Homo sapiens: one gene and its partners. The protein of the gene in region 6 interacts with the protein of the main gene of each other region in a biochemical or structural test. Each region holds a gene or a part of one and is shown on either strand. Other genes may lie near its edges.

Region 1 (3,894 bases), on a different chromosome or scaffold from region 6:
TATCAAGTGGGATCTAAAATTACTCCTAAAAATACAAATAACTGAACTCTAAGAGGAATCCAAATTTACATTAGAAATGGGAAAGGAAGGAGTGAACTAGATTGTATAGCTTTTATTAACAAAGGATATGAGTTATCTGTGAAGAAAACAGTGATGGAAGTTGCATTTTCAGTATGAACTGAAGGTTGTGATTAAGCAACTCTTTATTATCTATCTTCCTGGAAATAAAATCCAAGAGCAGTACTATCAGGATCCTCTTTTTAAGAGGATTTTCCAGAAGATTTTCTCTGGAAAGAATGCTACACGTAGAAAAAAAAACACTAAGCATAAATCCAAAATATAAATCACCAAAAAAGAGAAGAAAAATTAAACTTTGTGACATTTGCTCTGGTTTTAACAGGCAAATTATTCTGCCTAATCTTTAAAAATAGTCTTTCAAATTATTTTAATGGTCTTTTTTTTTTGAAAAAAGTTATCTTAAAGGCAACAACAAACTCCTTTCTTGAGGAAAGGAAATGAAATTATAAGAATTTAATAAGTTTGCCAGAAAAGTATAAGTTATCTTAATGTGGGACAAAATACCTGAGTTTAGAGTATTTAATATTTTTATATTCCGTTTCCATCCTTACCTCTATTTCTCTTTCAGGATTCAGATCATGATCCCACAGAATTATTTTTCTGTCTTTCCCTCCTCCAGTTAATAACATCCCATTTCTCATCTGACAAAGTGTGAACACACTGCCATCATGAGCTTTGATTTGTTTGCTGATTTGATATACACCTAATATGAGGGAAAAATAAAAACACTAGTGATAATACTTTTCTTCAGATTTTAGTGTCTATTTGGAAGAAAACTTCAGTAGAACTAGAGTTAATAATCAGAAAGTTCATATGACTCAATCAAAAACCTATTTTCAGCAAGTCTTTTGTGCAAAGCAGGTAGTAAAGTTTAGGGTATAATACAATCTTTTGCATTTCTGTCAATATTTATTTACTCTGAAAATATTTCAAAATATTTTCCTACAAAAAACCAAAGCAAAAGTAGTGATAATTCCACAGACGAAAGGGGATATAGTATAGGTTTCAGAACTTTACTATCTCTCATAATCATCTTGTATGGTAGCTAGGGTAGGTGTCACTCTTCTGATATGAGAGCTCAAGACACAAGAGGTACAGGAGCAGCTTAGGGGATACCACATAGTTAGCTAATAACAAAGCTGTGACTAGGCTCAAGTCTCCCACCTTGATGTTCCTTTAACTTTGCAAAAACATCTTTGGTTGACCTTCTGAGGTAACAGTCACAACGTTTAACGTTTTACAACCATTGTTAACCCAGAGGCCTTCTGCTGTGCCAAGGATTACTCCCCTTTATTTGCTGAGATATGGGGGCACTACAGAAGTTATTGGGACAAAGGTAGGCAATGGATACCTGCAGTGATGGCTTTTGACCTACTAGCAGAGAATAATTTCAGTATTTTAAAAATTGATTCAGCTGTACCAATGTGATGGCTAAATAACAGCCCAGTTTTCTTGTATACCCATAGCACACTTTGTTAAGTACCCAGGGAGAGACCAAGGGGGTACATAAAAGGTCTTTTAGGCAAACACATGTGGTTTTTTAAATTATATTTTGCCCCCTTTTAAGGGTGAGAATAAGATGATAGTACTCATACCTTTTTCTTTGGTATTCATAAATGCCTTACTCAGAGAAGCTCTTTAGCTAGATAGGCTAGCAGAGCAAGAGTAAAGCTTTTTGGAAGATGATGTCCTACAGAATTAGTTACCAGGTTCAAAATGGGAAGGTAGAACCTTATTGAAATATGGCCAAAGTAAGTCAATAAACAGCCCTTAGTCCTCTTGAAAAAATTCAGGTTTAACAACTATTCATTTTCTAAAACTGTTCCTCAACTGATGAATAGATTTTAAAAACACAGTATGTCTATACAATGTGATATTACTCAGCCATAAAAAGGAATGAGGTATTGACACATGCTACCACCACATGGATGAATCTTAAAAACATAATGCTAAGTGAAGGCTGGGCACTGTGGCTCACACCTGTAATCCCAGCACTTTGGGAGGCCGAGGTGGGTGGATCACCTGAGGTCAGATGTTTGAAACCAACCTGGCCAACATGGCAAAACCCTCTCTACTAAAAACACAAAATTAGCCGGGCATGATGGCACATGCCTGTAATCCCAGCTACTTGGGAGGCTGAGGCAGGAGAATCGCTTGAACCTGGGAGGCGGAGGTTCAGTGAGCCGAAATCGCACCACTGCACTCCAGCCTGGGCAACAAGAGTGAAACTCCATCTCAAAAAACAAACAAACAAAACAAAACAAAAAAAACTAAGTGAAAGAAGCAAGTCATAAAAGACCACACATTGTATGACTCCATTTATATGAAATGTCATCAACAAGTAAATCTATAGAGACCTAAAGGAAATTGGTGGTTACCTAGGGGCTGAGGGGAGGGAGAAATAGAAAGTGACTACTAATGGGTACAGGCTTTCTTTTTGGGGTGATGAAAATGTCCTTAGGTCAGATAGTGGTGATGGCTGCACAACCTTGTAAATATACTAAAAACCACTGAACTTAAAGGCATACTTCAACAGGGTAGATTTCATGGTATGTGAATTATATATCGAAGTTGTTACTGAGATTGTTCTTTTTTACTCATCTATTTGAGCTGCTATTATACTTAACAAATTGACTAAAATTTCTAAGGCTTTGGTATCCTAAAAAAAATTATGTCTCAGTTTGAGTATGCTAGTGGTACAAATACTTAACAGATGGGTATATATGGCAGGGAGACAGGAAAGGGCTTGCTTGATTTGGAGGAGAACTTGCCCAATTCAGCAGAGCTGGAAGTAGAACTCCAACAAACTTGCTGTTCAGGTCAACTGTCTCCACTTACATCAATATTTATCATCTAAAAATACCTTAAAAATTGAACAACACAACTGTGTTCACTGGCATAGGTAGATAAGTATCTATCTCTGTTCTGATGTTACCACGAGAGGGAGGACACCTGAGAGATGAGAATTTTCTGAGAGTACTACTGGCTTTATTTGGATAATAAAAATAGAGAAAAGCAAATTCTAGGCTTATTTCCCTGTGCATGGTCAAACTAACAAGAGTAGCCTGAAGGTATCATGTAAGAAAACACAAAAAGCAAAGGTGTGGGAGTTTCATAGTTCTCTATCAGAATGTAAGAAAATAAAGCTTTTCTATGCTTAAGTCTGCTTTCCGTATTTCTAAACATGACAAAAACCTTGTTAAACACTTAAAATCCTCCCAGAATGATGGAAAACTGGAAAAAAAAATGAAGAAAAAAATGCTTCATCAGAAATAAAAATACTCTATATAGTGATCAAGTCAGTGAGTCCTTCTCACTCCAGGAAAGTTATTTCCTGAGGTGGACCTAGTATCGACTTAGCTTAAAAAATTTAGTGTTTCTAATTTAAACAAATTATCAAAGTTTCCTTTATATAGTATTTACCTGTAAAACAAATTTATAGCCAAAGATGTCTTTCTTATGGGCCTGTATTTCTGATATTTCAGTTGCCAAATAATGTTTGAAATCCCTGCCAAGGAAAATAATTATCCTTGAATTAAAAAAACCTACTCTGCCTTCAGGCTTACTCATATGGTCAAGTCCATCCAAACTTAATCACAAACCTCACCCTTTCTTCTCATCTCTAACAGACACAAAGCTTCCATAAAAAGCAAGTTTACACTGCCTGCCAAATAAAGATGTTTGGAAGGCTTTCTGTGCCTGTTTAAAGAATAAAATATTAGGGAGACTTTGAAATTTATGTTGTATTCTTAGCAACTGGGCCCATTTGATTATTCGGAGAACACATAAAATGGCAGTGTTTCTTAGCTCCTTTGC
Region 2 (3,894 bases), on a different chromosome or scaffold from region 6:
GCCCAGGCTGGAGTGCAATGGCATGATCTCAGCTCACTGCAACCTCTGCCTCCTGGGTTCAAGCGATTCTCCTGCCTCAGCATCCTGAGTAGCTGGGATTATAAGCACCCACTGCCACACCCAGCTGATTTTTGTATTTTTAGTACAGATGAGGTTTCGTCATGTTGGCCAGGCTGGTCTCTAACTCCTGACCTCAGGTGATGCCCCTGCCTCAGCCTCCCAAAGTGCTGGGATTACAGGCCTGAGCCACTGCACCCGGTAGGTTCTGGGGTTCTACTGTAATGAGATTTGGGTGAAAAACTAAGGCAGAAGGGAGGATGAGGAGAGGCTGGCCCATGGGTACAAAGTTACAGTTAGGAAGAAGAAATTGGGTGTTCCATTGCACAGGAGGGCAATGATAGTTGACAGTAAAATATCATGGCCAGGCATGGTGGCTCATGCCTGTCATCCCAGCACTTTGGGAGGCCAAGTCGGGCAGATCACTTGAGGTCAGGAGTTTGACAGCAGCCTGGCCAACATGGTGAAACCCTGTCTCTACTAAAAATACAAAAATTAGACGGGTGTGGTGGTGGGCGCCCATAATGCCAGCTACTCAGGAGGCTGAGGCAGGAGAATCGCCGGAACCTGGGAGCTGGAGGTTGCAGTGAGTCAAGATGGCGCCGCTGCACTCCAGCCTGGGCGACAGACCAGGACCCTGTCTCAAAATAGTAAATAAAAATAATTTTTAAAAGATGCTGCTAGGGTAAGCGTCCTGGACTGGTGACTGATGATGAGACTCTGGACTGAGGGGTCTCCCATGGTGCCAGTCTCCCTGTGCCACTTCCTGGCAAATGACCAGGCTCCCAAGTCAGAGCCCTGCTGGCCAAGGAATTGGCTTCAGGTGGGAGCCCCAGGAACCCTGGTGAGTGAAAGATCCAGAACCCAGAGCCCCAGCATGTCCTTTCCGAATGGCTCAAAGTATCCCGCCGGACATTTCAGGCCTGTAGTCCCTCCAAGCAGCCCAAGGAGCAGCACCTGAATCGTGCCCGCCAGATACCAGGCATGGCCATCCACAGTCTCACCTGGAACACACAGCCCCTCCAGCTGCTCCTGCCTCTCAGAGGCTTCCCTGGCCGTGAGCAGTCACTCCACCAGGAGCGAACCTGACCTTGGCACTCCAGGGTCCCTGCAAACCCGCCACATTAGAGCACCTCTTGGCACCGCCATGCAGGCAGCCCTGGTTCATCCACAGCTGACCCAGAGCAGGCCTCTGCCCGCCTTCCCCGCATGGCCAGCTCAGATCCCTGGGAAAGGCTGGGCTCTCCCCACCTGCAGAGGAGCCCCCTGCCTTCCAGGAACCTCTGCAGTGGAGCTGCCACTGCTCCAAGTAAGGCAGACAGTGGGAAAGGGGAGTCCAGAGTCCTGGCCCCAAGAGACCTAAGCTGCCTTTGAGAAGCTGCACCCACAGTGAGAAGCCCACGCCACTCCTGAGAAGCGGGAGATCCAGGGAAGTGGGACCTTTTTTTTTTTCTTTTTTTCTTGAGACAGGGTCTCGTTCTGTTGCCCAGGCTGGAGTGCAGAGGTGCAATCTCGGCTCATTGCAGCCTCCATCTCCTGGATTCAAGCGATCCTCCCACCTCAGCCTCCCCAGAAGCTGGGACTACAGGTGTGCAACACCATGTCCAACTAATTTTTGTATTTTTAGTAGAGACGGGGTTTCACCATGTTGGCCAGGCTGGTCTCGAACTCCCAACCTCAACTGATCCGCCTGCCTCCACCTCCCAAAGAACTGGGATTTTAGGCATGAGCCACCGCGCCCGGCCCCTTTTTTCTTTTTTCCTATCAGAACCTCAAATGACTGGCAAGGAAGGGGGAGAAGGTTATTTGGTGACAGGAACAATGGGCCAAGGGTGGGGACTGTATGAAGTTTGAGGAGAGGCAGATGCTCCTAGCCTCGGAAGAGGTGGGGGATTCCAGCAGGGCTTCTGGGAGTGGTTGGAGGCAGGCTGTCACTAGCCCAGGCGCTCAGCAGCCCCACTCCTGGCCATCCGCATCCCCAACGGTGGCCCCCAGACCCAAGCCACAGAGCCTCCCCTAGAGCGGAAGCAGAAGGGGCCCCACCAGGAAGCTGTGTGCTCACAGGGAGGTGTTGCAAGAAGCTCAGGGAGAAAGCCCAGGAGAAGCAGAGGGGGCCTCTCTGCCCCAGGCCCTCTGAGGCTGTCAGCGAGAGCAGGAGCACCTTAGAAGCTCAAGCTCTGGCCCCCGCTGAAAGCCCTGCCACAGATCCAGCTCGTGGACCAGCTGTGCAAGCCAGGGCAAGCCCCATCCCAGAGCCTCAACCTTGCGTACCTATTTTTTTTTCTTTTTTTTTTTTTGAGATGGAGTCTCACTCTGTCACCCAGGCTGGAGTGCAATGGCAGGATCTCAGCTTACTGCAACCCCTGCCTCCCAGGTTCAAGCGATTCTCCTGCCTCAGCCTCCCAAGTAGCTGGGATTACAGGCGCCTGCTACCACACCCAGCTAATTTTTTGTATTTTTAGTAGAGACAGGTTTTCACTATGTTGGCCAGGCTGGTCTTGAACTCTTGACATCAGGCAATCCACCCGCCTTGGCCTCCCAAAGTGCTGGGATTACAGGCGTGAGCCACTGCGCCTGGCCTTTTTTTTTTTTTTCAACTGAGACAGACACAGAGTCTCACTCTGTCACCCAGGCTGGAGTGCAGCGGCGCGATGTCAGCTCACTGCAACCTCCACCTCCCGGGTTCAAGGAATTCTCCCACCTCAGCCTTCCGAATAGCTGGGATGACAGGTGCATGCCACCATGCCCGACTCATTTTTTTTTTTGAGATTGAGTCTCACTCTGTCGCCCAAGCTGGAGTCCAATGGCGTGATCTTGGCTCACTGCAACCCTTCCTTCCCAGGTTCACGCGATTCTCCTGCCTCAGCTTCTCTAGTAGCTGGGACTACAGGCACGCACCACCACACCTGGCGAATTTTTGTATTTTTAGTAGAGATGGGGTTTCTCCATGTTGTTCAGGCTGGTCTCGAACTCCTGACCTCAGGTGATCCACCCGCCTCGGCCTCCCAAAGTGCTGGGATTACAGGCGTGAGCCACCACGCCCGGCCCCAGCTAGTTTTTTTATTTTTAGTAGAGATGGGTTTTTGCCATGCGGGCCAGGCTGGTCTGGAACTCCTGACCTCAAGTGATCCGCCCACCGGACCTCCCAAACTGCTGGGATGACAGGTGTGAGCTGCCACGCCGGGCCAGCCTTGTGCATCTGTAAAATGGGGGTGCATTGCCTTACTGCCCTGTGGGGATTTGGGAGTGGAGGGTACGGATTTAGGGACAGGCAGGCAAGGTGCTTGCCTGGAAGCTGCTTGTGTTTTCATGAAGGCATTAACTTTGGAGTGGAGGGTACGGATTTAAGGACGGATTTAAGGACAGATTTAGGGACATGCAGGGAGTGGAGCGTACAGATTTAGGGACAGGCAGGCAAGGTGCTTCCCTGGAAGCTGCTTGTGTTTTCATGAAGGCATTAACTTTGGAGTGGAGGGTACGGATTTAAGGACAGATTTAGGGACATGCAGGGAGTGGAGGGTACAGATTTAGGGACAGGCAGGCAAGGTGCTTGCCTGGAAGCTGCTTGTGTTTTCATGAAGGCATTAACTGTGGAGCTGGGCAGGAGGTGCGGGCCTGCTCCCTATTCACCCAGCACAAACTTCTAAGAAACCTTTGGCAGCCTCCCTCCCCTGCCACTGCCACACCTGCCTGCAGGCCACACCTCCCCCTGAGTTTCAGGCCCAAGTTCTGCCTGGACATCCCCTCAGCTACCTTGAACACAACAGGTCTAAGTAAATCAGGCTGGGCGTGGTGGCTCACGCCTGAAATCTCAGCACTTTGGTAGGCTGAGGTGGG
Region 3 (4,608 bases), on a different chromosome or scaffold from region 6:
CTGAGGACTACAGTGGCCATTCTCTCAGGCTAGATGAGAGGCGGGATGGCCTCACCTGACAGGTCACCTGCACCCCGAACACCAGCTCATTCTCTCCAGAGAGGCTGGGCCCTTCACGGTCTGGAGACAGCAGGAGCTGCAGAGGGAAAGCAAGGCCCAGGTGGACTTTTGTCCCAGTCCTGACCTCCTGGGGATGGCACTATCTAGGGACGGGTTTGTGACTCCCTTCTGGACCTCCCCGAGGACAGGGCCTGGTGATGTCCTGGTCCCTGACATAGAGCAGATACCTAACAAAAGTTGTTGTTGAATGAATAAAAGAACAAATGGATGAATGAATGAGCAGCTCTCCCCATCTGCTGTGGCTCCTGCAACTTTTGCTACTGACTGCTCAGACGCGTGCAGCAGCCAGTCACAGGGATAAGTTTCAGAAGCAAAGCACCTGATATCGTTGCAAGGTTGGGTAGGATATTGTCTTCCCTCCTGGGTGCAAATGCAAAGCCCCCATACCTGAATGTGGCCAAAGTCAACGTTCTCGTAGTGGAAATGGGCGCAGTCAGCCAGCCGCGGGAAGGGGCCTCGAGGAGCTGAGAGCCTGGGAGACAGGGGATGCGTCACCAGCAGCTCCTTGAGTCTCCCCAGCTCCTAGCTGAGCCCTTTCCTCCCTCACCCTCACCTCTTCCCAGGCTTCCCCTTCACACTGGGCCCCCCAGCAGTGGGTAGAGGCTGCACCGAGCCCTCCCCTGGGCCATCCAGGCTGTCAGTGCTGCGTGCCTGTAGAGCAGAAAGAATCAGAGGCCCCCAGAGATGGGAGCAAAGAGACAACGAGAGCATTGTTATCTGGCAGCGCGGGTCCAGAGCCCCGGGCGCTCCACACACCGCCCTGAGCATGAAGCAGGATGGCAGGTCGGGGGAGGTGAGGGCTGGGCTGAGGACAGGACTGCTTCTTCGTGTGTGGTCTGGGGTGGGGGACTGGAGAAGCAGGGGCCAGACGTGAGGCGGGGCAACAGGATGGAGAGCATGCTGGTCCCATCTCTCCCTGCTGAAAACCCTTCCGTAGCCCCTGCAGAGTACAGTGATCTCCTACCACTGTCTAGACAATCACAACTCCCATCTCATCAGCCTTCCTGCTTCCAGCCTCTCCCCTCCTGCCAGCTTTTCCGCAATAGCCTGGATCGTTTTCAGAAAACACAAATCTGGCTCTATTTCTCCATAGATCCTGGGCCTTCAATGACTCCCTGTTGTCTTCAAGACGAAGTCTGAATTCTCTGGTCTGATAATCGAGACTTCCCTGAGCTGATTTCTGTTTACCTCTCCAGTCCCATCTCTTCCCATTGCCCCCACTCTCAGAGCTCTTGAACTTCTAAGAGTCCAAAAAAAGCACCCTCTTCTCATTTCCTTCTAGGCCTTTGCAAAGGCTGTTCCCTCAGCCTGGAACACTCGCCCCACCTTTCCCTGGGTACATTCATCCTCACTCCCACCCCTCAGGTCCCAACTCACATGTGCCCTCCTCCAGGAAGTTCTCCCTGACCCTTCAGGCTGCACCTGGCATCTCCTCTGGACTCTCTCCATCCCCTGAGGTTCCCCCATCCCAGGTTCCATGCCTTGACCAGAGCTTCTCCCTTCACAGCTCTGATCACTCTGAGATGGCACTGGTGGTGACAAGTTCATCTCTCTCATTGGACTATGACCGGCCTCCCAGAAGGAGGGCCCCAGACTGAGCTCCCCAGCATAGAGCTGGGCATTGAGTTGGTGTTCAGACATGATTGTTCCTGATTCTTTTCTGGGTCCCCAGTGCCAGCCCAGTCGCGCGCAGCAGGGACTGGGTAAAATCTGATGAATAAATTAACCAGCTGCCAGACAGATTCACTGGGCTGTAGCGTCTCCCTGCTCCATGTCCCTGCAACCCCCAGTCACCCTCAGGGTCTCACCCTCAGGGTCTGTCCCCCTCCAGCCCATAAGGTTCCCCAAGGCAGGATGGGAGCTGACTCTCTCTGTGCCTGGAGCGTGGGGCCTGCACAGAGGCGGTCTCAGTGAATGTCTGCTAAGTGAGGGAATGAATGGATGAATGAGCGGGAGCAGCATGGTGGGAGAGGGAAATGGTGGGGGAGGGGGATGAGGACAAGGAGATGGAGCAGACCCGAGGATCAAGGGAGGTACAGTGCTGGCCTGTTGGGGTGGAGTAAGGAAGGAGTGGCTGGAGAGACGAGGCAAAGGCTCAGACTGATGCGGGGCGGGGGGGATTGAGAGGAACTGGGATAGGGTGAAAATGAGGGAGAAGGAGAAGAAAAGGGTCAGGCTGGGGATGGAGCGGGTGGGGGGTGGGGCTCGGGAATGAGAAAGGGGCTGTGGGGAGGAGGAGGGGGCTCCGCCGGGGAGGGCTGAGGGCTGGCAGAAGGATGCCGAGGAAGGTGCTGGGATGGGAGCTGGGGAAGGACCCAGGAGCCTCAGGAGGCCCCTGCAGGGGCCACTTGGGTGGCGCGGGTCCCTTCCTGGACTAGCCCCGCCTCCTCCCAGCCCAGGCCCTAGGTCCCTGTCACCCCATCCAGGGCGTGGAAGACGGGGATGCGCGCTTAGGGGGCGGGGTCGAGGTACGGGCTGGGACCCGGGATGGGGCCGCAGGACGGGAGGGACCACGGCTGAAGCACAGGCCGCGGGATCGGGCGGGGCCGGGGGCGGGGCGCGCGGGGCGGGGCTGCGCACGGACAGACTGACATCCGGACGGACAGGCTGACGGCCGCGTGGGACCCTTACCACCATGGTCGCGTAGCCTCCTCAGGCCCCGGCCGCGCTCGACCCCTCGCTCGCCGTTCTCGTCGCCGCTGCCGCCGCCATGGCGACACAAAGGGGAGGGCGCGAGCCGCGCGCGGGCGGCTGCAGACCCCGCCCCTAACGGCTGCCCGTGGCTCCGGCGCGCGCCCCACGGGGGCGGGGGGCAGCGGGAACGCGGCGCTGCTTCTCATTGGCTCCGCCCTTGGCCTTAGGCCGATGCCCCGCCCACCCGGAGGCTTCTCATTGGTTTCACCTTGGGCTCCGCCCCGGCTCTGTGTCCTCGGTCCCGCCCCTCGAAGTTTGACAGCGCCACGCCCATGACTGCTTTTCATTGGCTGTCATCGCCCTCCTGAGACAAGCCCCCAGGTTCTTTATGCTTTGCTTCCGACACTTCCAACACCAAGCAATGGACCCTACCTTTCGTCCACTCCCAGTGTCCATTCTTCTGACTTTTTTATTTTTATTTCTTTAAGAGACAGGGTCTCACTCTGTCGCCCAGGCTGGAGCGCAGTCCTGCAATCGTGGCTTACTGCAGCCTCAACCTCCTGGGCTCAAGCGATACCTCCCATGTAGCTGGGACTACAGGCGTGCGCTACCACGCCTGGCTAATTTTTTTTAGACATGGGGGTCTCACTATGTTACCCAGGATGGTCTTGATCTCTGGGGCTCAAGAGATACTCCCTCCTCAGCCTCCTTTCAAAGCGCTGGGATGACAGGCGTGAGCCACCACGCCAGCCAGCCCCTGATAGTCTTAATTGGATTCTCCCACGGCCTCAGAGCAGTGCCCAGTTCCTTAAGCAGCTTTTCAAAGTCCCAGTCCCAAGTCTCACCTTTTCAGTCCTGATCCCGACCCCGCTCACATAATGCCGAGGACGCTCCGCCCATGGACGTTTCTCGTTGCCTCATATACCTTGCCTAGGACGTAACCCGAGGCTTTCTGCGATTTGGCCTCCCCTGCCCACTGGACATTTTCTTGTTTCCCCTTCTACTGCTTATTACGGGCCAATCTCCAGCCTTGATTTTTTTTTTCTAGGAAAATGCTTAGGGGGAAATGCCAGATCATGCTTATGCCCCCCATAAAGCCATTCCCAATGGAGCCTGCTAATACTGAGCATGCCCAGATAACACTGTAATAACGCCCTTCACAGGAGGGTCTCTCCTTAGTCATGCCCTCAACAAATTCTCATCTCAGAGGGTCTTGGTCTGTTCATTCATTCATTCATTCATTCATTCACTCAAACTCTAATCAATTTGTACATACATCAACAACCAAACCAGGAGAAAATATACCCTGCCCACATTGGAGCTCAAAAGCTACTGGGAGAAGACAATGAACAAAATTAACATTAAACAAAATATAGAATATTAGGCCAGGCGTGGTGGCTCACGCCTGTAATCCCAACACTTTGGGAGGCCGAGGCGGGCAGATCACTTGAGGTCAGGAGTTCGACACCAGCATGGCCAGCATGGAGAAACCCCGTCTCTACTAAAAATACAAAAATTAGCCAGGTGTGGCGGCGGGCGTGCCTGTAATCCCAGCTACCTGGGAGGCTGAGGCAAGACAATGGGTTGAACCCAGGTGGCAGAGTTTGCTGTGAGCCGAGATCGCGCCACTGCACTCCAGCTTAGGTGTTGAAGTGAGACTCTGTCTCAAAAAAAAAAAAAAAAAAAAAAAAAAAAAGCTGGGGACAGTGGCTCACGCCTGTAACCCCAGCACTTTGGGAGGCCGAGGCGGGAGGATCACAAGGTCAGGAGTTCGAGACCAGCCTGGCCAATATGCTGAAACCCCGTCTCTACTAAAAATACAAATATTAAAATTAGCCAGGTGTGGTGGCGTGT
Region 4 (3,894 bases), on a different chromosome or scaffold from region 6:
TAAGAATGACTTTCTTCACAGAATTGGAAAAAACTACTTTAAAGTTCATATGGAACCAAAAAAGAGCCTGCATCGCCAAGTCAATTCTAAGCCAAAAGAACAAAGCTGGAGGCATCACGCTACCTGACTTCAAACTATACTACAAGCCTACAGTAACCAAAACAGCATGGTACTGGTACCAAAACAGAGATATAGATCAACGGAACAGAACAGAGCCCTCAGAAATAACACCACATATCTATAACTATCTGATCTTTGACAAACCTGAGAAAAACAAGCAATGGGGAAAGGATTCCCTATTTAATAAATGGTGCTGGGAAAACTGGCTAGCCATATGTAGAAAGCTGAAACTGGATCCCTTCCTTACACCTCATACAAAAATTAATTCAAGACGGATTAAAGACTTAAACGCTAGACCTAAAACCATAAAAACCCTAGAAGAAAACTTAGGCAATACCATTCAGGACATAGGCATGGGCAAGGACTTCATGTCTAAAACACCAAAAGCAATGGCAACAAAAGACAAAATTGACAAATGGGATCTAATTAAACTAAAGAGCTTCTGCACAGCAAAAGAAACTACCATCAGAGTGAACAGGCAACCCACAAAATGGGAGAAAATTTTCACAACCTACTCATCTGACAAAGGGCTAATATCCAGAATCTACAATGAACTCAAACAAATTTACAAGAAAATAACAAACAACCCCATCAAAAAGTGGGCGAAGGACATGAACAGACACTTCTCAAAAGAAGACATTTATGCAGCCAAAAAACACATGAAAAAATGCTCACCATCACTGGCCATCAGAGAAATGCAAATCAAAACCACAATGAGATACCATCTCACACCAGTTAGAATGGCAATCATTAAAAAGTCAGGAAACAACAGGTGCTGGAGAGGATGTGGAGAAATAGGAACACTTTTACACTGTTGATGGGACTGTAAACTAGTTCAACCATTGTGGAAGTCAGTGTGGCGATTCCTCAGGGATCTAGAACTAGAAATACCATTTGACCCAGCCATCCCATTACTGGGTATATACCCAAAGGACTATAAATCATGCTGCTATAAAGACACATGCACATGTATGTTTATCGCGGCACTATTCACAATAGCAAAGACTTGGAACCAATCCAAATGTCCAACAATGATAGACTGGATTAAGAAAATGTGGCAAATATATACCATGGAATACTATGCAGCCATAAAAAATGATGAGTTCATGTCCTTTGTAGGGACATGGATGAAATTGGAAATCATCATTCTCAGTAAACTATCGCAAGGACAAAAAACCAAACACTACATGTTCTCACTCATAGGTGAGAATTGAACAATGGGAACACATGGACACAGGAAGGGGAACATCACACTCTGGGGACTGTTGTGGGGTGGGGGGAGGGGGGAGGGATGGCATTAGGAGATATACCTAATGCTAAATGACGAGTTGATGGGTGCAGCACACCAGCATGGCACATGTATACATATGCAACTAACCTGCACATTGTGCACATGTACCCTAAAACTTAAAGTATAATAATAATAAAAAAAAAAGAATGAAGTTTTCTAAACACTTTTCATTAGCTTTTAAAGCAAATGAAGAAGGCAACATTTGGATCACTTACACCCTCTCCGAGAAAGACCCCAGCAGAAGCACTGGTAAGGAGGCCCAAGTGCAACATCTGGCCAGGGGCTTTTTACACTTAAGGGAACTTCAGTGAAGTCAATAGCAAATCAGGTGGTGTCTGCAATTTTCTTTCATAAATAATCATACATTGTAAATATTATTTGGTCACAAAGATGTAAGTTTTAGAAGCTTTTGCATATAACATATTGACAATGATCCTCATCATTTTTATTAAGCTATGGACATCATGACTGGAGCATTCTGATTTGTCTCCTGTTCCCTCAAGTTTGTTGAATTAAACTGTTGTGGCTTGCTACTCAAAGAGAGGTCGCCAAGCTAGCAGTACTGCAGTCACCTGGGAGCTTGGCAGAAAAGCAGACTCTGAGATTTCATTGGAGACCTACTGAATTTTGGCAAAGACCCTGGGTGACTGGTATGAACATGAAAGTTTGAGAAGCACAGTTATCCAGCTATCATGTAAATGAACTGCTGTTAGCCAATTACTAAGGCTTATATTTAGTGAGAATAACCAATTAAAAAATGTGACATGTAGCTTTTAAGACACTTCAGAAGGAAATATAACATAATCTGAGGTAAAAGAAAGCATGCCTGTTTCAGTTCAGCCTCATTTAAGATGTCTTCTCGCTTTTTTTTTTTTTTTTTAGTATGACTCATTTCTTTTTCTTCATTCCTGTCGCACATCTTACCTCCTCCTCACTTTGTGAGTCAAACTTACCTTCAAGCAACTTAGGCAATCTCTGTGTGTCCTGAGAAAATGACAATGACAATAGCAGGATTGGGAAACCAGAAAGGCAGAACTTGCCCCACTGACTTTATTAAGTTCAGTTCATGTTCAGTATAACAGTTTAGAGCTTACAGATGTTGCGTCGTGACCATTGACATTTACCACCAACCTATGAGGTTGGCAAAACAAGTAACATCATCATCATTTCCCACTTAGAGCTAAAAAACCTAAGATTTCAGAAGATTCAGTGGCACATCCAGCAGCCCATACCAAACAACAGGCGGACTGTGGTGAGATGCTGGTTCCTGACTCCAAACCTTAACTCCTTCCCTGGACTGAAGCCTCTATCAGCAGGGGTCAGAGAGAATGTGGTTATGAGCATCACTAAGGTCAGCAATAAAGTGCCTGTCTCTTGGATTGGGAGTCTTCTGTATGCAAAATGCTCTCCTATACCTTATGGGAAGGGATAAGGTCAAAGAGTCTGCATCGGAGACTTTGCCTGCCCAACCCCCAGGCCTTGAGCATGATCACATGCTCCGTATGTTTTCTTCCAGAAGAAAGGATTTTCAATCTGCATTTAGAGAGAAGGAAGAAAATGGTATGAGCATGTGGAGGGGCGAGGCCTTTCAAGAAGCATGGAATTCCACCTAGGATTTTGCTTGTATGTTTGTTGCAGATGCCAAGTGGGCATGAGAAAGAAAAGCAATTCAGGAGGGGGAAGAAGTGAGGACTTGCATCTGGTGCTGCTTCACCATGATCATCATTTTCACCATCCTGCTCAAACACTCCCAGCAATCAGACTCTATGTTCAGTACTTCACATTGATTTTCTCAATTACTACTCAGACGTCAATCCTGGAAGGTAGGTATGTGCTCCCATGTTAGAGATGAAAACACTGAAGTAAGAAAGACCACAATATTTGCTCACGGTCACAGAGCTACTAAGAAGTGCAGTGGTTTATACCTCAGTATTTTGGACCTTGGAGCTCAAATATTGAGCGATTAAGGCTACTGTTTCTAATGTTTCATCCGTATCCACATGCCCTGTCGTATGTCCAGGGTCCTTGATTCCACCTCTTAAATCAGAACTGCTGAAGATGGGCTCCAGGCAGCTGGAACCTACACATGACGCTAGTTAATCTGATAAACATTGAAGACAGGGAACTGCTGCTGTAGGTTATTTGACCTCTAACTGTACATACATTGGATTTGGGGTTTGACATGAGAGACAAATGGGAGATAAAATCTATTTATTAGCCTAAGAAAGAGATGGCATTATATTACAGAGGAATAAACTCAAACTAGGAATTTTAAGACTTTTGTTTTCATATCTGTATGTCATTGAATATGGCCCCCTTAACTTCTCTAAGCCTGCATTTCTGTATCAATTTTTTAAAAATCCCACTCAATCTACCTGAGTAGAGTTACAAAAATATGATGAAAAAATAAATGTGAAACATTTTTAAAAACAGGCCTTATAGCTACATAGAAGTTATAATGAAAATAATGCTTCAAATTACTA
Region 5 (3,894 bases), on a different chromosome or scaffold from region 6:
TAAAAAGAGATGGCTGCTGAGGCTTTCAGTACAGTCTATTTTTATAATTCAGGATATGAGTATGAGAAATAAGCATTTTTTCCTTCCATTTTTAGGCTACTAGCCTGATAAACTATGTTTAATGTATTTTACTTTAAAACTTAGTTCATAGGGCCTTTGGCTGGAAAAATTAAACTTAATCCTATTACACAGCATTTTAATTCAACATATATGATCAGAGTTTCCCATTAATCATATTTTGGGAATGGTCTTAGTCAAAAACAAACAAACAAGCCCCACACACAAACCCAAATAAAACAATACCCAGAAAGAGTAAAGAAAAATGTTGTTTTATCTTTCCTTGTTTGTCCTCTCCCGAAACAAATCATGTCTAGTGCCTACCTGAGCCATCAGTGGGAACCGAACTTGCATTGATTCCAGAAAGACCAAACAAAGGACATTCTCGATCTGTGTTGACATGACCCCATTTGTGACATTTAATGCACCTCACATTTCGAACCTGAGAAATAATGAATGTGATTTTGGTTACTAAAAAAGTAAGAATCTAACCAATGTTCAAATTCCTATTCCTTGATAGAATTTAAGCTAAATTACATTTTTAAAAGATCTCCAGGGAAAAAGACTCCAAACTATGTTTGGTAATTTAATACAAAGACTAAAATCTTTCACTATAAATTTTGCCTAGAAACTAAGCTGAATCCCATTTCTTTTTGCCTCTCACTTGGTGGCAATATAATGTCATCCAAAAAGAAATGGTAAAATACCAAAAAGAATTAGGGCGTTATGTGAAGAATTTAAGCTTAAATTCTCTCATTTTAATAAGTAAACCTTTAAAGTTTCAAATTTCAAAACCTGGAGCTGGTAAACATTTTCTGTAAAGGTCCAAATGTAGTCAATATTTTAGGCTTTTTGGGACAGATGTTGTCTATTCTAACGACTCAACTCTGCTGCTGCAGTGGGAAAGCAGCCACAGCCAATAAGTAAATGAATAGGCAAAGCGGTGTTCCAATAAAACTTTCTTTACAAGGATTTGCCCTCTGATGATAGTCTGTCCCGATTCTAAACCAATAATAGATTTAAATCTTTTCTTGACCTTGAGCTGATTCTCCAAATTTTTTGAAAACTGCAGAGACCAATATCATTATAGCTCTCACTATAAAAGTTTGATTCCTGTCTTTTTTTTTTTTTTTTTTTTTTTTTGAGATGGAGTCTCGCTCTATTGCCCAGGCTGGAGTGCAATGGTGCAGTCTCGGCTCACTGCAACCTCCACCTCCTGGGTTCCAGCGATTCTCCTGCCTCAGCCTCCTGAGTAGCTGGGATTACAGGCGCCTGCCACCATGGCTAGCTAATTTTTTGCATTTTTAGTAGAGACAGGGTTTCACCATGTCGGCCTGGCTGGTCTCGAACTCCTGACCTTGTGATCCGCCCGCCTCGGCCTCCCAAAGCGCTGAAATTACAGGCATGAGCCACCACACCCAGCCTGATTTCTGTCTTTTATCAGCCTACTACATTTTATGTTTTCTCCTCTATTCCTTATATTATCTGATACAAATAAAAACCATAGTGCCCCTTTTCAGCTTAAACACCTTTTAGACAACAATATAAAGATACATTTATTAAATAAAAATTATTCTTACAGAGTAAAATATGTGTCACTTGCCTGAATACCAAAGGGCTGATCTCTGATGTTCATGTCATCTTTGGCATATCTATTAAATAGAGGAAATGTACAAACACAATATTAAGAATAATTTAAAAAATTAAACAGCAGTTAATCAGAAAAATAGTTTTACAGTTCTAAGAACATTATGAAATATATTACTTCAGTAAGAATACAGAACTATAAAATCTATCTAGTATTTCCAAACACCATTTAGTTATTATGTGTCTAGTCTGATAATTTGTGATATTAAAAAAATGAAAAAGTATATAAAACAAAAGACTATGAGCAAGCAGATTAGTTGAATAAGACAGCTAATTAAAATCATTAAAGATAACTTTTCACATCAGTTGCCTCCTCTAATGATTGAAAAAGCAACATAAGATGGGATATCAGTAAATGTAAACTTAATGATACATATCTTGTCTTAAAAGTAAACCAGTCCTTACTTTTCTCGTGGGGCTCCTTTCTGCCATTCAAATTTGTATTCGGTCTCTCCTTCTGTTTCTTCTTTCTAAAAACATTCATTGAAAATTCTTTTAATTTTTCCATATAATACAATCAACTGCAAGTAAATTCAGACATAGAAAATAGTACTTTACCTCTTTGTTTTCTTGATTGCATATCAAAAATATGGAAGAAAAAAGGTATGACAAGTTAAAAACTTCAATATAAAAATCTACTGTATACACTATGATATCATGTTATTTAATTGTCACTTGTAAGAATTCATTGGTTTGACTTTTTTTCTTCTTTCACATGATAAAAATTCAGACTATTGCAGGACAAAATACAAAATTAAAATTAATAAGTATGTTAATTCACAGTTTTTAAACTTTTCACTGTTCATTGACAGTGAATATTATGTTTTTTATTTACAAATGCATTAAATATTTAGTAAGAAGGACTAAAGATACATATGCAAATTATTAAAGAATAAGTGTACTTTGGACATGAAAGTTTCTTCCTTCTCAAAGGGCACATTATGAAATATTATCAGATTAGAAAGATATTTTTTAGTATTTATTCTGTTGTATGATTATAGTTTTTATTATCTTCACAGGATAACAGCAATTTTAAAAGATGGAGAGCAACTTTAAAAAAATATCTGTCATAGTACTTTTCCATGTTTAGCTGCAAACACATCAAAGACTTAAAAGAAAAGGAAGGAGGCCAGGTGCGGTGGCTCACGCTTGTAATCCCAGCACTTTGGGAGGCCGAGGTAGGTGGATCACGAGGTCAGGAGTTCAAGACCAGCCTGGCCAACATGGTGAAACTCTGTCTCTATTAAAGATACAAAAATTAGCCAGGCGTGGTGGCGTGCTCCTGTAATCCCAACTACTCGGGAGGCTGAGGCAGGAGAATTGCTCCAACTCAGGAGGTGGATGGAGGTTGTAGTGTGCTGAGATGGCACCACTGCACTCCAGCCTGGACGACAGGGCAAGACTGTGCCTCAGAAAAAAAAAAAAGAAAGAAAAAAAGAAACGGAAGAAGATAAGTACCTTTTTTAGCTCCTGGTGGGGCTTCATACATGAAATTAAGGCCATTCTTTACACGTTCATCTCCCATAAGCAATCTAAGTGAAACAAGACAAAGTTAACGATTTTATGTAGGACAAAAAAAAAAATTATAGAATAATCCACTCCCCACCAAAAAGCCTAAGGGAATTAAGATAAAATATTTTTGTTAGAAACAGAGTTCTAAAACTTTACTCCACTAACTAGATTACATCTGAATGGAAATTAAACAGTGCTGTCTCTTTAGTAACTAGTTATAAGCTCTGAGACTTTCTTACTACCTGAGAGATCCTACCCATCCTAACAAAAAAGGGGAAAAATAACATGGTCATTTTTCTTACAGGATTTTCTTAAACCCTGAAATGCTGTGGAAATTATGACAACTTTGAAATCCCATATGCCATCACAAATTTACAATTAAGTTAAATAGTGCCAACACTTTTTCTTGATTGTAAGGGATCAAACGGTTTTGTTTTTTCCCACCAAAAAAAGAAAAGGCAAAGGAATCAGTTTTGGAAAAAATAAGTCTCTCAGGGATTTCTTTAGGAAGTCAAATCCAATCAGGGCTTGTAAGAGTCACAGTAAATGAGAAAATAAAATTCTTTCGTGAGGCCAGTGAAAAAAGAATAAAAGTCTGCAGCTGGGCACAGTGGCTCACACCTGTAATCCCAGCACGCTGGGAGGCCAAAGCAAGTAGATCACCTGAGGTCAGGAGTT
Region 6 (3,894 bases):
GAGGATAAATGGGAACACCCTGCTCCTTCACCCTCCTCTTGAACTTCACCTCATTATGTCACCAGGAAATCTCACAACCTCTCAGGGAGGACTCCCCAAAAACTGCCCAGGTCATCAGCAGTCCAGGCATGACACAGTTTCTCCAACAAGGGAGAAATGAGAGGGGTTGGGTAGGAAGTAAAGCCCCATCAAGGAGGCGCTGGTTCCTGGGGAGGGGAGGAGGGAGACTCCTCCCCCATTTCCCTGCACGTCTGAGGGCAGGGGGTTAAGGAAGGGCTCCCTTAAATGCCCAGGCAGTCTACACAGGCACAGGCAGAAAGGGGCTCCAGACGTCCATTGGGCTAAATCGCCAAGGTCCAGAGAGGGGAAGGGATCAGCCACGGGTCCACAGCAAGCAGGGGCCGAGCTGAGTCTAGAACCTGGTCCACATGGAGTCCACTTCACAGCCTGTGGCCTCTTGGTGGGCCCAGGTGGGTCTGGAAGGGGACACACTTGGGTCAGGGACAGGGAAGGTGCTGCAAAGACGCAATGTGGTTGGGCTTTGTCTGGCTGTGGTGGTGGCCAGAGGGAAGGGAGGGAGAGCTGAGAGTAAGGGTCCCTGTCCTTTGAATCTCTGCCATCAGGGGCTCTGCTCCCAAGCTCCAGGCCCTCCCGGATGTAACACAGAGTGTCTATGATCTGTCTTCTCCACTGGGCTGCACCCTGGTGTCCAGCATTCAGTGGTGATCAGAAATTGCACAGAATGAATGAACACACGCCTGCGTTCCAACAGGACCCACCTTCTTGTCCCACGCTTGGCAGCTGCCGACCCCACCAGCCCCCGCACTTGAGAGGTTTTGGGTTTGGGTTCTTTGCATGAATGATGTGATATGTCAACAGTCACCCCTCCGAAAACCACGTTTCCTTTTGTTTTGTAGGAAGCACCTCGTGCCCTGGCACATCCTGTTGACTTCCCATGGGCTACCTGTGGAGTGGGACCCGTGTTCGGGAAGGCGGCTGGCATTGGCGGGCAGAGGTGGCAACCATGACAACTGGGCTGCCTTGGGCGGCGAGCGTACCACACACCAGCGCTGCCCTGAGCTCGTCAGACATGCTTCCTCACTGACTCCTCCAGCGTCCCTGTTGTCATCATGCCCCCTTTACAGATGAGGAAACTGAGGTCCTGAGAGGCCCATGGCTGGCCTGCAGCCACACAGCTAGTGAGCGAGGGGTGTGTCCTCTGAAACCCCGGCTTGGTGCCCTTGGCTGCATGGCAGCCCTGGAGAAGGGACCAAATCCCCTCTGCAGCCATGTGGGTTTACGCCAGGCTCAGGCTCCTGCAAGGCAGGGGCTGCGGTGGCACATCTGTGTGACCAGGGACCAGACCAGGCTGTGCTCAGCATGCTCACCTGTGGGTTCCTTCACTCGGGGAGAAGGGCACATGAGGTGGGGAGGGGGCAATGGGTGATCAGGACAAACATTCCTCAGGGCTGGGTAAGTGGCAGCAAGCTGACCATTACTTAAACATTTAAACAATGTTTTCGAGGGATATTTTTTGACCTATAATAGTTAGTGGTAAGGACACCTCCTGCCTCCAGCCTTGACTCCCTCACCCACTGTGGCCGGGGGCCACCAGAGCAGGCACTCACAACTCACACCCAGCCATGGCCCCCCGACTTGCAGCCACTTCAGGGGCTCCCCTTTTGTTCTGAGTGTGTATCTGGCTCTGCTGCCATGTCCAGCCTTCTGTCTCCCCAACCTCCCATAATCCACGGTGCTGCGGTGCCTGGAAGAAGGCTCACTTCGGCCTTCCAGATTCTGGGATGGTGCCCTGCCCTCTGTGAGGCCTGCCCAGGAAGCGGGTTTCCCTGGGGCTCCTGGCCCACCAGTCAATCTGCATCACCCTGGAAGGTCACCATCTGCTTCCTACCTGCTTCCCCACCAGCCTGGAAGTCCCCAAGAGCAGGGCCAAGGCCTGAGAACACAGGGCAGCGTGTGGCAGAAAAAACTGCTAATCTGAAATTCTGCAGCTGTGGCTTCGGCGGGCAGCCCTGCCACCAGCAGTCCCACTTTGCTGGAAACTGCCGAGCAAATCCAGTATGTTTCATGGGGGGCCGGGTGCGGTGGCTCCCGCCTGTAATCCCAGCACTTTGGGAGGCTGAGGTGGATGGATCACCTGAGGTCAGGAGGTTGAGACCAGGCTGGTCAACATGGTGAAACGCTGTCTCTACTAAAAATATGAAAATTAGCTGGGTGTGGTGGTGGGTGCCTGTAATCCCAGGAGACTGAGACAGGAGAACTGCTTGAACCGAGAAGGTGGGGATTGCAGTGAGCAGAGATTGTGCCACTGCACTCCAGCCTGGGCAACAAGAGCAAAACTCTGTCTCAAAAAAAAACAAAAGAAATAAAAAATAAAAATCAGGTGTGGTGGCATGCGCCTGTGGTCCCAGCTACTCGGGAGACTGAGGCGGGAGGATTGCTTGAGCCCAGGAGTTTGAGGCTGCAGTGAGCTATGATCATGCCACTGCACTACAGTCCAGGCAACAGAGTTTGCCTCTAAAATAAAAAAAAAACCCACCACCACCACCACCACCACCACTACCAACAAAACCAAAGAAAAAGGCTGAGAGGAGAGATGGAAAGAGGATGAGAAAGAGAAAAACAGGGAGACAGACATAGAGACAGAGGCAGAGCCAGACAGGCTGCAGTCTGGATGTGGTCCCCACAATGAACTCCTCCCCTAGCCAAGCCTGGTCCATAGGCCACTGCGAGGCAGGGTCAGGGCTGCCCTGTGGGGAAGGACTTCTATGCCGGGTACTGCCATGTACAAGCAGGAGGGGCGTGCAGCAAGGAGGAAAGGCTGTAGGCAGCGACCCCAAGGGCTGGGCAGAGCGATGAGGCGGGCCGCTCCTGCCTGGCCAGGAGAAAACTCACTAGCCGCTGCCCCTAGAAAGCTATCGTCTGTTAACTTAGCAGGGGCTGCGGATTCCTGGCACCCAAGGGCTGTGATGGACATGATGTGGCCCAGCCGCGGCCCCAGAACCTCCCCGAGGAGGCAAAGCTCCCGCTCGGCCCAGGGTGCTCACCTTCAAGAGGCCGATCTCCTTGACACAGTCCTGCCTCGCCTTGGCGTCCATCATCTCAAAGATCTTGGGCGGGAGGAAAAAGAGAAATAGAGTGGTTACAATCTGTGTCCAGTGACCCAAAGGAGGCCACGGGGTCTGCTTTCCAGTCCCGGCTCTCCCACCTCCTCACCAAGGGACTCTGTGACCCCCCCCTGCACTCCCAGCCCCTGTAGGGCTTGCTCACTGTGGGTCCCCCCAGCACTGTCCCACCACAAAACCCATCGTGGCACTAAAGAACCAAGACAGAGAGCCCAGGTGAGCCCCTCCCCAGAAGATGGAGAGGGCGGGCCAGGCACAGTGGCTCACACCTGTAATCCCAGCGAGGCTGAGGTGGGTGGATCACTTGAGGTCAGGAGTTCGAGACCAGCCTGGCCAACATGGTGAAACCCCGTCTCTACTAAAAATATAAAAATTAGCTGGGTGTGGTGGTGCACGCCTGTAGTCCCAGCTACTCAAGAGACCTAGGCAGGAGAATCGCTTGAACCCGGGAGGCAGAGGTTGCAGTGAGCTGATCACGCCACTGCACTACAGCCTGGGTGATAGACTGAGACTCTATCTCAAAAAAAAAACAAGATCAAGAGAGAAACTGGTCCTTTTTTGGACAGAGAGGACCCTGCTACTCCTCCAGCGCCCTGAAGCTGCGGGTGTTCTCTCCCCATTTCCCCAACGCCATTCTCTCTCCCGGCCCTCCTCTGCCCAGGCTCTCAATCTTGTTCTTTAAGGACAAGTAAGCAAATCAAGGGGCTTGGGAAGCTTTGCTGGAGGATTTAAAGCCATTTCCTCCGGCAAA
Region 7 (3,894 bases), on a different chromosome or scaffold from region 6:
CCTCTGATAAGGTACAGCTTTCAATGGCCTAAAATTAACGCAGCATTTTAGTATAAGAGGGAAATATTTTAATTTGGACATCTGCACTAACTAGATAGAAGTGGAAGATCTCATTAAACTTTGAAAACAATATAATCAGTTTATATAAACTCAAAATCACTAAGACACTTATATATTCATAGGGGGCCCCAGGTTCAGGTTTCACTTTATAGTACAGATGTAAACAAAAGAAGGAGCTCAAAATGCCAAATAAAGCAAGACTAAATAATAAAGCTGCATCAATGGTCTCTGGAAAGCTCTTTTCTATGATGTGTTTGAACTTGGAGAAAGCATCAAACTTTAATATAAGCTTTGCATGTTGCTAATGCGTTTTTGGAAGCCATAAATCAGGCAGGAAAAAAAAAACTAACAAAAACTAAGTGATACAACGTGAAAATGGCAAAATATACACTCCAAACATTTTTTATTGCAAGAAACAAAAAGCACACAACAGCCTGTACATACATACAAAATACTAACTATAGACAGACAAATGTAGAACATGTCATCATGTTCCTTAGTGTAAAACCTAAACGATCTAAAAAGGATCATACATTAACTGTACAACACAGTGTCATACAGGGATAATGCTATCATATTTAATATGAAACAGTGTTACGGGCACAAATTACCCATTTCTACAAAATAAGTGTGCAAGTGATGCCACATATTATCCATATTCAACTGAGCTGTCATCAAAATACATTTTATTTACAATATGTACTATGATCAGTTGGATATTAAGTTCTAAAATGATTTACTTCACTGCTACATTATAAAGGTAAAAGCAATGTGTAGAAAAAGTGTGAGATTGTGTTTTTACATACTGCTTTTGTAGTTGCCATCGCTGGTTCAGTTCGACTTCTAAAACACAAAATAAAAACAAAAATTAACATTAGCTATTTATGAATTTTTGTGCTAATAAATTTTAACACATTATCTTCAATAATACATTTTTAGGAACCTAATTTTCCTTTGGTATAAATATTTAACAGCCAATTTCTGAATGAATAAATTACTCTGATTAATCTTTACCACCTTTGAGCAGTTTTAAGATAGATTTGTGGTTTGGAAAAAAATTCCATACTAGGGAATTCAAAAATAGGTGTACCCTGCCACTTAAAACAAATGTTTTCTGAAAGGTAGTATAGGGATTTTATGTTTAGAAACGTAGTTTATTCTTAATAAACTGAAAATTTTAAATTATATAATTTCCCAGTTTCTGAATGCGTAAATTTTCACACATCAGGAAGACTGCTGTTGTTAACATTTGTAATTTGAATCCCTGAGAAATTGCTGTGCTCCCAAAACTAATTTTCAAATCTGGAGGGCCAGGCTGATAGCTATTTTCATTTTTCAAATGTCTCAAAACAACAATCAAGGATTGAACAAGAGGCCAAGGTGAGAGGATCACTTGAGCCCAGGAGTTTGAGACTAACCTGGGCTGTAACATAGTGACCCCATCTCTTAAAAACAGAAAAAAAAAAAAAACTGAACAAAAATTCTCACTCCCAGAAAAACACAATATAATCAGAGTATTTTAGTTAAAAGAACTGACTTAAATGGCTGTGTAGAACTGGACAATTTGATGTTTAAAAGACATAAACCCCAAAAGAAATTATTTTAATCCACACAGGAAAGGGGAAGAAGTTGAGTTGCTAGATTATAGCCTTTTAATGCTTAAAGTTTAAGGTATCTTGACTATAGAGAAATGTTAGCATCTAACAGGAGTTTCTAGGTGTGTGTATAATTTGGAATTTGAGATAAAAAAAAAACTGAGCTTTGATTTTCTAGTATTTGCTCAAAAAAAAACTGAGATGCATTTTATGAGGCAAATTTATTACAAACAGAACCCTATATATTGTACATTAACATATAATTCTGTGTAAGAGGCAACTTATTTTGCCATGTACTTCAAATAATTCTTAAGAGTTTCTATCAAAAAATCTACAGAAAATACATTTGCCATTTTTTAAAAAGCACTTGGTAAATTAAAGTAAAATTTCACACTGGATTGTAGGAATTAATTCTCCCCATAAATTTATAATTCTTAGGCTGGGTGCGGTGGCTCACGCCTGTAATCTCAGTACTTTGGGAGGCCAAGTTGGGTGGATCACCTGAGGTCAGGAGTTTGAAACCAGCCGGGCCAACATGGTGAAACCCAGTCTCTACTAAAAATCCAAAAATTGGCCAGGCTTGGTGGTGGGCACCCATAATCCTGGCTACTTGGGAGGCTGAGGCAGGAGAATCGCTTGAGCCCGGAGGCTACAGTGAGCCAAGATTGTGCCACTGCACTCCAGGCTGGGCAACAGAGTGAGACTCCATCTCAGGAAAAAACAAAACAAAACAAAACAATATATATATATACACACATATATATATAATTCTTAGAATCATTTAAAGTTAAGAACACACACCATTAAAAGTTCACTTGGCAATTACAACAAGGAAAGTATTCAGCTTTTTAAAGTAGCTATTATATGGAAGATACTGCACAAAAGGACCTCTAAGTGTTAAGATATGGAATATAACTTTACAACAAACTAATGAGAAAAATCTTAGAATACTTGCCCATATGAGGTAAAGCTCCAAGAAATGACTTTATTTTTACCTTAATTTCAAGAACACTTTCCATTCCCTAGCACTGGCAAATTCTAGAATTTTTCATTGACTCAAAATAATTTGTTCCAATTTCAAACAATACTACCTAATTCTAAGTGAAAATCACTACTCTTTAAATAACCTATGTTGCTGCCCTTTTCACATATTATAGTTCTGCTATCACTACTGAAATTGCAAGAAAGCAGAGAAAGTTAAGGATATAAGGTTTTAATCCTGCCCCAGGTTAGTGAATACCAGCTCCGGACTAGTTGTGAGACTGCTCTCTTCCTACTCCAATAATGTGCATTTAGCATGTGCCAGACACTATTTAATTCTTACAACCCTCTAGAGTTAAGTACTCACGTCCCTATTTTATTTTTGAGGAATCTGAGGCACAGAGACTTACCCAAGGTCCAAAGTCACACAACTGGTATGAAGCAGTAAATGGAGTCAAATCTAAGCCTGATTTCAGTGCCCATGATTATAAATCCTATATACTTTATGCCTCTCAGCCAAAGCCCCTTATTGATAAAGAGTAAATGTTAGCATTACTGAATACTCTTGATGCTGTCAAAATATTTAGGACCGATGTCTACAACACCAAATTTTTGTAGTGAAGAAAACTGAAGGAACCCCCACAAAAAAAAGTAGTCAAAGAAAGGCACAGAAATAATGTGAATATCACTTTCTTGTATCTGTAAATACTGGCCATATGGAGAAAAATTTTTCCTAATAATGGCCCTCTCACAACAGGCTAAGTCAATTTAACTGGGGGAGGAAATCAAAAACAAACGAACAAAGAAACCTACTATCCTCACAGTCTTGAGAAGATGTATTCATTAAGGTTAAAGTAATGAGTTCAGTTCTAAAATACAGTTTTTTCTCACAAAATTAAAAAAACTAAAAAAAGTCTATTTTGAGAAATACATGAGATTTGATACTTACATAACATATGTCTTGCTTGTAGATTTAACACCTCCAATAGGAATTCTTCTAACAATTACAGAAGAATTCTTAGGAATCAGAGCATTATCATCAGTATATTCTGTAAATAAAAAGACAGAATTGAATTTCCATTTGGGGATTTGAGTGCGTAACCAAGAATTAGAAAACTTCAAATATAAATTTCATGGGAAATGACTTTAAATATAATAACTACAAGTTCCTTGCAACTAGATTACTGATATTGTCAGAACAAACATCCAAAGCCCTAAGAGGGCTTCTTTTCAAAGGACAACCAATATCATCAGCAGG

What was found.
Region 1: of the proteins of NEK6 (region 6) and EML4, one has a biochemical effect on the other in vitro, tested with the Homo sapiens proteins (one study listed by BioGRID).
Region 2: the proteins of NEK6 (region 6) and PRAM1 form a complex in vitro, tested with the Homo sapiens proteins (one study listed by BioGRID).
Region 3: the proteins of NEK6 (region 6) and ARHGAP33 form a complex in vitro, tested with the Homo sapiens proteins (one study listed by BioGRID).
Region 4: the proteins of NEK6 (region 6) and PTN form a complex in vitro, tested with the Homo sapiens proteins (one study listed by BioGRID).
Region 5: the proteins of NEK6 (region 6) and CIRSR form a complex in vitro, tested with the Homo sapiens proteins (one study listed by BioGRID).
Region 7: the proteins of NEK6 (region 6) and RBBP6 form a complex in vitro, tested with the Homo sapiens proteins (one study listed by BioGRID).

The regions. Positions count from the first base shown.
Region 1 is NC_000002.12:42,298,128-42,302,021, reverse strand, and holds part of EML4 (echinoderm microtubule-associated protein-like 4), read right to left. Parts: intron 782-3,894; coding exon 630-781; intron 1-629. UniProt on the Homo sapiens protein: Essential for the formation and stability of microtubules (MTs). Required for the organization of the mitotic spindle and for the proper attachment of kinetochores to MTs. Promotes the recruitment of NUDC to the mitotic spindle for mitotic progression.
Region 2 is NC_000019.10:8,492,296-8,496,189, forward strand, and holds part of PRAM1 (PML-RARA-regulated adapter molecule 1), read right to left. Parts: intron 1-3,894. UniProt on the Homo sapiens protein: May be involved in myeloid differentiation. May be involved in integrin signaling in neutrophils. Binds to PtdIns(4)P.
Region 3 is NC_000019.10:35,773,808-35,778,415, reverse strand, and holds the start of ARHGAP33 (rho GTPase-activating protein 33), read right to left. Parts: upstream 2,853-4,608; 5' UTR 2,758-2,852; coding exon 2,752-2,757; intron 2,319-2,751; exon of another isoform or gene 889-2,318; coding exon of another isoform or gene 772-888; coding exon 674-771; intron 593-673; coding exon 508-592; intron 137-507; coding exon 56-136; intron 1-55. UniProt on the Homo sapiens protein: May be involved in several stages of intracellular trafficking. Could play an important role in the regulation of glucose transport by insulin. May act as a downstream effector of RHOQ/TC10 in the regulation of insulin-stimulated glucose transport.
Region 4 is NC_000007.14:137,333,655-137,337,548, forward strand, and holds part of PTN (pleiotrophin isoform 1 precursor), read right to left. Parts: intron 1-3,894.
Region 5 is NC_000002.12:174,378,542-174,382,435, forward strand, and holds part of CIRSR (corepressor interacting with RBPJ 1), read right to left. Parts: intron 3,237-3,894; coding exon 3,163-3,236; intron 2,274-3,162; coding exon 2,263-2,273; intron 2,175-2,262; coding exon 2,110-2,174; intron 1,710-2,109; coding exon 1,661-1,709; intron 500-1,660; coding exon 382-499; intron 1-381. UniProt on the Homo sapiens protein: May modulate splice site selection during alternative splicing of pre-mRNAs. Regulates transcription and acts as corepressor for RBPJ. Recruits RBPJ to the Sin3-histone deacetylase complex (HDAC). Required for RBPJ-mediated repression of transcription.
Region 6 is NC_000009.12:124,313,157-124,317,050, reverse strand, and holds part of NEK6 (serine/threonine-protein kinase Nek6), read right to left. Parts: intron 3,129-3,894; coding exon 3,066-3,128; intron 1-3,065. UniProt on the Homo sapiens protein: Protein kinase which plays an important role in mitotic cell cycle progression. Required for chromosome segregation at metaphase-anaphase transition, robust mitotic spindle formation and cytokinesis.
Region 7 is NC_000016.10:24,545,954-24,549,847, reverse strand, and holds part of RBBP6 (E3 ubiquitin-protein ligase RBBP6), read right to left. Parts: intron 3,686-3,894; coding exon 3,586-3,685; intron 904-3,585; coding exon 867-903; coding exon of another isoform or gene 813-866; exon of another isoform or gene 447-812; intron 1-446. UniProt on the Homo sapiens protein: E3 ubiquitin-protein ligase which promotes ubiquitination of YBX1, leading to its degradation by the proteasome.